Homo sapiens: one gene and its partner. The protein of the gene in region 1 interacts with the protein of each later gene in a pairwise test. Each region holds a gene or a part of one and is shown on either strand. Other genes may lie near its edges.

Evidence for each region.
Region 2: the proteins of ZNF10 (region 1) and TRIM24 interact in a two-hybrid assay, tested with the Homo sapiens proteins (one study listed by BioGRID).

Annotation. Positions count from the first base shown.
Region 1 is NC_000012.12:133,144,108-133,147,931, reverse strand, and holds part of ZNF10 (zinc finger protein 10), read right to left. Parts: intron 3,499-3,824; 5' UTR 3,440-3,498; coding exon 3,407-3,439; intron 1-3,406. UniProt on the Homo sapiens protein: May be involved in transcriptional regulation.
Region 2 is NC_000007.14:138,582,220-138,586,043, reverse strand, and holds part of TRIM24 (transcription intermediary factor 1-alpha), read right to left. Parts: intron 2,195-3,824; coding exon 2,045-2,194; intron 1,303-2,044; coding exon 1,093-1,302; 3' UTR 1-1,092. UniProt on the Homo sapiens protein: Transcriptional coactivator that interacts with numerous nuclear receptors and coactivators and modulates the transcription of target genes.

The DNA of each region.
Region 1 (3,824 bases):
AGTGGTTCACACCTGTAATCCCAGACTTTGGGAGGCCAAGGCAGGCCTCGGGAATGCCTCAGGATTGCCTGAGTTCAGCAGTTCGAGACCAGCCTGGGCAACACGGTGAAACCCCGTCTCTACTAAAATACAAAAAAAAAAAAAAAAAATTAGCCAGGCATGGCGTCATGCACCTGTAGTCCCAGCTACTCGGGAGGCTAAGGCAGGAGAATTGCTTGAATCCGGGAGAAGGCAAACGTTGCAGTGAGCTGATATCGTGCCACTGCACTCCAGCCTGGGCTACAGAGCAAGACTCCGTCTCCCAAAAAAAAAAAAAAAAAAAACTCAGAAAACAGACTAGTTTTCTTACTGAGCAAAAGACTAAAATAAACATTTCACCAAAGAAGAATATAGGTAGTTGGTAATAAATAAGCAAATGATGCTTAATATCATTATTTATTAGGGAAATGAAAGTTAAAATGACAGTGAGATACCTCTAAGACACTTATTAGAAAGGGTACTTTTAAAATGTGTGATACCAAGTGCTGGTGAGGATGCGGAATAACTGCCACTCCCACACATTACTGTGAGAATGCAAAAATGCTACAACCACTTTGGAAAATTTGCATATTTTTCATAAAGTTAAACGTACTCTTGGCACACACCTATCATTCTCTTGGCTAAATACCTGAGTATGAAAATTTATGTCCACACAAAAACCTGTATGCAAATGTATAAACCTGAGAAAGGGCTTTATTTATAATTGGCAAAAACTGGAAGAAACTCAAATGTCCCTCAACAGGAAATGCATAAACAAAACGTGGTACAGCCACACAGTGTAAATCTACTCAGTAATAAAAAGGAACATCCTACTGACTCATGCAACAACAGATGAACCTCCGATACATTATGCTATATGAAAGGAGCTAGAGGCTTCATACTATGAGATTCCATTTATGTGACCTTCTGGAAAAGGTAAAAATCAATAGATCAGTGGTTGCAAGGGGCTGGAGGGGGAGTTAGCATGGACTATATACACAGGGGCAGCACACAGGGAATTCTAGGATCATGGGTTTGCCCTGTATCTTGGTGTTTTGTTTTTTTTTTGAGATGGAGTTTCGCTCTTTCACCTAGGGTAGAGTGAAGTGGCACAATCTCGGCTCAGTGCAACCTCTGTTCCCTGAGTTCAAGCAATTCTCCTGCCTCAGCCTCCCAGGTACCTGAGTTTATAGGCGCCCGCCACTGTGCCCAGCTAATTTTTGTATTTTTAGTAGAGACGGGGTTCCACCATGTTGGCCAGGCTGGTCTCGAACTCCTGACCTCAAGTGATCCACCCGCCTCCGCCTCCCAAAGTGTTGGGATTACAGGCATGAGCCACAGTGCCCAGCCTGCTCTGTATCTTGAATGAAGTGGGGGCTACACAACTATATGCATCTGTCAAAAATCACAGAACTGTAAATCCAAAGTGGAAAACGTTACTGTATGTAAAAAAAAAATTTTAAATGGAATGTCCTATGAGATCTGTATGCTGGATATCTTCTCTCCTTCCCTCCAGGTTTCCTCTCCACCCTACTCTGTTCCCCAGGGAGGGTGAGCTGTGTGGATTATACCAAAGGTTTCTCTTGCCCTCTGCCTTTCTGATTTATTTCACCAATGGAGATCACCAGCTGGATATGGCAAGAAAGTTGCCCCAGTGCAGTGGTGGTGACGTAATGGAGGTACCTTGACAGATGGGAACAGCCTCTGTGAACTGCAAGTCTGGTTTCCAGAACCTGTTCTCATCCCTTCAGGCCTAATGGTGATGACACTCTGCTCCCACCTCATTCTCGTATTACTGAAGTTCAGTGTGCCTGCTACTTTCCACTAGTCCTTGACTCACTCATTGCTGCTCAGTTTCTAAGAAGCCTGCCCAGTTTTAACTTCAGTGGCTATCTGATTTCTGGCCTGGTGCTTTTAGCATTCCTATAAGTAATACATTGCACTTTTACTGTGAACACAGAGACAAAGCATATCATGGGGACACCACTGAAAGGTGCATGACATGTTAGCCAAGAACCGGATTTGAAATCAGGCGAACCTGTGGTCAAATCTGTACATCTTAAATTTTGTGTTTTTTTTGTTTTTTTCTTTTTGTGGGGGTGGGGGGGTGGGACAGAGTTTTGCTCTGACACGCGGGCTGGAGTGCAGTGGCATGATCTTGGCTCACTGCAACCTCCGCCTCCCGGGTTCAAGCAATTTTCCTGCCTCAGCCTCCGGAGTAGCTAGGACTATGCCACCACGCCTGGCTTGCTTATTTTTGTATTTTCAGTAGAGACAGGGTCTTACCATGTTGGCCGTGCTGTTCTCAAACTCCTGACCTCGGTGATCTGCGCACCTCAGCCTCCCAAAGTGCTGGGATTATAGGTATGAGCCACCGCACCTGGCCTATATACCTTAAATTTTGGATTGGATAATGCTTATTTAACTTCACCATGAGTCAGTTCTCTTAGCTGTAAAATACCGTCTGTCTCATAGTATTATACACACTAACACAACAGTACAATACCGTGTTAAAGAAGACAGAGATGAGAAGTGCCATCTGCTGCAGTCCAGCATGTACAGACATGCCAAGAAGGTATATAGCCTAAGTATGCTTTCATTCCTCCTAATACTTTTGAAATATCTTGTGTGCTTCTTGTTCTTTGCTGGAAGTAAGCATTATCCTGAATTGTGTTGTTTATTATTTTCAAAATGCCCTTACCTCATATGAATATAATTGTAAACGAATAACTGGTTGGCCGGGCGGGGTAGCTCACACCTGTAATGCAGTGCTTTGGGAGGCCGAGGCAGGCGGATCACCTGAGGTCAGGATATTGAGACTGGCTAACACAGTGAAACCCCGTCTCTACTAAAAATACAAAAATTTAGCCAGGCATAGTGGCACACGCCTGTAGTCCCAGCTACTTGGGAGGCTGAGGCAGAAGAATCACTTGAACCTGGGAGGTGGAGGTTGCAGTGAGCTGAGATCGCGCCACTGGACTCTAGCCTGGGTGACAGAGCAAGACTCCGTCTAAACAACAACAAAAAAAGAATAACTGTTTGTAAATACCTGTTTTTGAATTTTTTGGTCAGCATGAGTTGATCTTTTTCTTGTATTAGCCTCCAGTCCATTTTAAATGTAACACTAATCTCATTCCATTCTGTCATATTTTCCACTACTATTCTACTATTTTTATTTTGTATATATTTGAAAATTTCTATAATAAAAGAAGAGAGGGAAAGACCAAAGCCCACAGTGATCTGTCTTCTTCCTAACTCACCTGGAAACAAAACAAAAACCTAATTCTAGTCTGCTGGAGAAGAAGATATAATTTCTGAAGATCTTTGGCAAAGGAACTAAAGCAAAAAGGAATTCCCAGTTGGAAACTGGGAAGAAAGCCCAGCTTACCCGGGACCAGGCAGTTAGTGACTTAGCATCCATGCCCTCCTTGTTCTTGATGATACTTCCTTGAGTGACAGCAGAGTGCTGAGGAGACAAAGCTGGGAAAAAGAAAGAAACATAAGTTAAGTTTGCTATGACTGGGAGGCTCCCTAAATTGTCAGTCTAAACTTCTTCATACCAGCTGGGTATGACACAAACACCCACTATACAGAGGAACATCAGAGATATTCTATAAGCAAATCTACAGTGCCCGAAGCTCCCCAAGATTAGGAAGAGAAGAGCTACATAAATTGCATTTTTACCCCCTTAATCTCTGGAGTTCCACACCACATTTGAAGATTTAAAACTGAATGATCCTACCTACCATTACAAATTTTTTTTTTGCGGAAAAAAATACCAAACCTGACCTAATCAAATAGTCTCA
Region 2 (3,824 bases), on another chromosome or scaffold:
TCAAAAGAAAAACATGAGATAGATGCTTCAGGAAAAAAAAAAAATCACTATTAATTCCCCCCAGCTGCCTGCTCCCAAAATCCTACAACACATTTTCATTCCAAATTATAGACAGATGAAAACCACAAAAACGAGTCCCTTTCAGAGGAACTTATATTTAATGCCCAGTAGGGTATATGATGAAGAACCCTCACATCAAATACAGTGCACGCTGCTGTATTTATATTTTGGGTAGTTCCACTAAAAGCTATACTGCAAACAATGAGGCTTGTTGTAAAAGGATCACCTGTACAATTAAACCTCACATAGACACACAGCAAACCCAAATGTATATACTTCCCTCAGTGGAAGAAGTTGAAAATCTAGATCTAGAAATGTATAAAAAATGGCCTTGAAAACCTGCTATACCAAAATACCTCTACAGACAAGATAAAAACAAAAACAAAAATCAAACATTTGTTTTCCGGATTTTTCTTTAATACAGTTGCCATCTTACATGATGTACTATTAAGTGCCTTCTTAATAGCATCTAACCTACCCTTCTGTTGCACCGTTTGGCCTCCTGGGATGGAACTCTTGTTACCACCCATGTTTGTGGAGTACTGTTCTTCAGTACAGTACACCTAATTCATATTGTCAGGCCATATAATTCACGGGTAGTGGTATTAATTTCTAAAGCTGAATTAAAGCACACATCCAAACCACATATATTTTTTACTTTTCAACTTAAAGAGTTCATACAAAGTCTATTTCCTTTCTACAGTAGCTATCACTCCAGACTGTGGTTTAAAAATCCAAGAAGTGGGAAGAATGTCTTTGTTTTCAATGCTTCTTTCTTCCATCCTTTTTCTATCCTCCTTTTTTCCTTCTTTCCATTTTCTTTCTTCTATTCATCTCCTTCTTTCCTTTCTTTCTTAGTGATAAGAGGTTAACAGAAATGGGCTATTAAGGAAATCAAAGTCTAGTAAACGTCCAAAACAGAGATGAGAATAGTCACAAACTCTTCTTTTTGTAGTGATGTTAAATTACTGACAAATGTTTTTTTGAAAACAAAAAAATCTAAAAACCAGCACAAGCTAGTGGTGCTGCATATTATTTAAGCAACTGGCGTTCTTCAATGCTTTTGAGGCGTTTCTTCCGGGGCTGTACAAAGTCATCATCTGAATCATCACTAAATTTATTATCTTCTGATTCATTCCTGAATTCTGGTTTGGGAAACCTTTTTTCTGGATAGAGGTTCTTTAGAAGTTCTTCAAAATAATTTTCAAGTTTTATACCAGCATTGGCTACTTCTGAATCAGGCTGTGGAGTAAAAATAAAAATGAGTAAAAAAAGGACACACTTTTGACTTCTGAGATTATATATATTAATGAGCTGTTTTGAAAAGTGTTCATGCATAGTCATTGAAATAATAGTTTAGGACTAGACAAAGTCTCTGTACAGAAGGCCAGCTAAAATAAAAGATTCAGAAGTGTGGAAAAAAGATAAAAGTAAAAGCCTGGATTATTCTAAAAGAAGGTGGTAATGGTAGGACTATATTGCCAAACACATATCAGTTAGGATTCCATAACCATAGGATCATGAACCAGGTATTTTTAGAACAAATTAAATGTAGTACTATTAGAATGAGTAACAGAGAACAAACCACCAGCAGCAAAAGGTTCTAAGTCTGACTGATGTGTAGATGAACTGACAGATGAGAAATTTTTAAATTAGAGCTATTTGGCCCACATCCTTAATATTTCAAGATCAACATAAAAATAAGAAATACAGGTGGGAATGATAAAGAATATGTCTAGGTCAGAGAAAAACATTTTGTCTTTCAGTTATCAGCTGTAATTTGCATTTCCATCACCATCTAATAAACCTTTGAATATAAATGTGGACAGAGTTATCTGAATTATCTCTTGCATTCCCTGATCTGAAAAGTTGGAAATTTATTCTAACTCAGACATCTTGGTCTCCTATGTTGACAAGGTGTTTAGTAATAAAATGATTTTCACACTGCTGTTCCTTCCTGCCCCCTTCCCTCCCCTAGCCTCACCTCATTGAATTCAGCACAGTTTTGAAAGATCAATCTAAAATCAGCTACAAAATCTTCAGGTTTTGAGTACATGGAATAATCTTCTTGTAGTCTTTTCTTGATGGTTGACAAATCCATTGGATTTTTAATTATTTTGTAATAATCAGGCACCTATTAAAAAAATGAGATGTTATAATACAAATAGCTAAATTCCACCTTGTCCTAAATATATTCTATGAGATGTGCTCTAAAATTCAGAATGTTCTCATTGCTTTTCTCTGTGCTATTTGCCATTAGTAAAGAAACCCATTTAACAGTGTTTACAAGTGCCCACTGCCTTCCACACACACTGGTAAAGGTTTGTGTGACTTTTTCCAAAAGTTTAACCAATTATTATTTTTGAGACAGGGTCTTGCTCTGTCACCCAGGCTGGAGTGCAGTGACACAATCTCGGCTCACTGCAAACTTTGCCTCCTGGGCTTAAGTGATCCTCTCACCTCAGCCTCTCGCGTAGCTGGGGTTACAGGCATGCGCTAACATAGCCGGCTAATTTTTGTATTTTTTGTAGAGATGGGGTTTTGCCATGTTGCCCAGGCTGGTCTCAAACTCCTGGGTTCAAGCAATCTGCCTGCCTCAGCCTCCCAAAATGTTGGGATTACAGGCGTGAGCCACTGCACCCAGCCCCAATTATTTTTAATGAAAAAACTTGTCTTCACATATTTCCTCTTAATCATCTAGATTTTTTTCTTCATTATTAAACAAAAAGCAATTACTAGGAAGAATATCATTTCTAGTAGAATCTGACATGTTTTTGCTGCATGTATTATACAAGAGGAAGAAGGACTTTGAATCTGGGTTTAATCCCCAGCTCTGCTGCTCAGTGTCATGGTCCTGGGTAAGCTACTTAACCTCAGTTTCTTCATATTTCAAATAGGGATAATCCTGCCAAACTCACAGCATTTTGTACAGACTAAATGAGATGATATTTATTAAGAAAAAGGGGGCTACTTTGTCATTGTTGGTATTAATAACGTAACTGTAAGCCAGGATAATAAAAAGTACAATTCAAGGTTACATTTTCAAGTTGGTAATGTTGTTACAAGCCTCTCGACTTCTTTACCCTGCCTCTTTTGGGTACAAAAGACCCTTCTCCCTGGAGGTATTTATTTCCTATATCAAGTTCTCAAAACCTGTTCTTAAGAGAGAAGCTGACTGTATTTACTAAGCTGATTTTCTTCTCAACTTTGTATTAATTTGAGATTTATCAAACTGTAGAACAAATGAAAAAAAATTTTTTTTTTGGGACAGAGTTTTGCTCTTGTTGCCCAGGCTGGAGAGCAATGGCGCAATCTCGGCTCACTGCAACCTCCGCCTCCGGGGTTCAGACATTAGAAGAATACTCTTTTGGGGTACCAGGCCCTTTCCAGCACTCTAAAATTATGCGTTAAAGTCACATCAAACTTTTTTTTTTTTTTTTTTGAGACGGAGTCTTGCTCTTTTGCCCAGGCTGGAGTGCAGTGGCATGATCTCGGCTCACTGCAAGCTCCGCCTCCCAGGTTCACGCCACTCTCCTGCCTCAGCCTCCCGAGTAGCTGGGACTACAGGCGCCTGCCACCACACCTGGCTAATTTTTTGTATTTTTAGTAGAGACGGGGTTTCACCGTGTTAGCCAGGATGGTCTCTATCTCCTGACCTCGTGATCCGCCCGCCTCGGCCTCCCAAAGTGCTGGGATTATAGGCGTGAGCCACCGCGCCCGGCCACAGTCACATCAAACTTTCAATATGAACCTTTCTGAAGTCA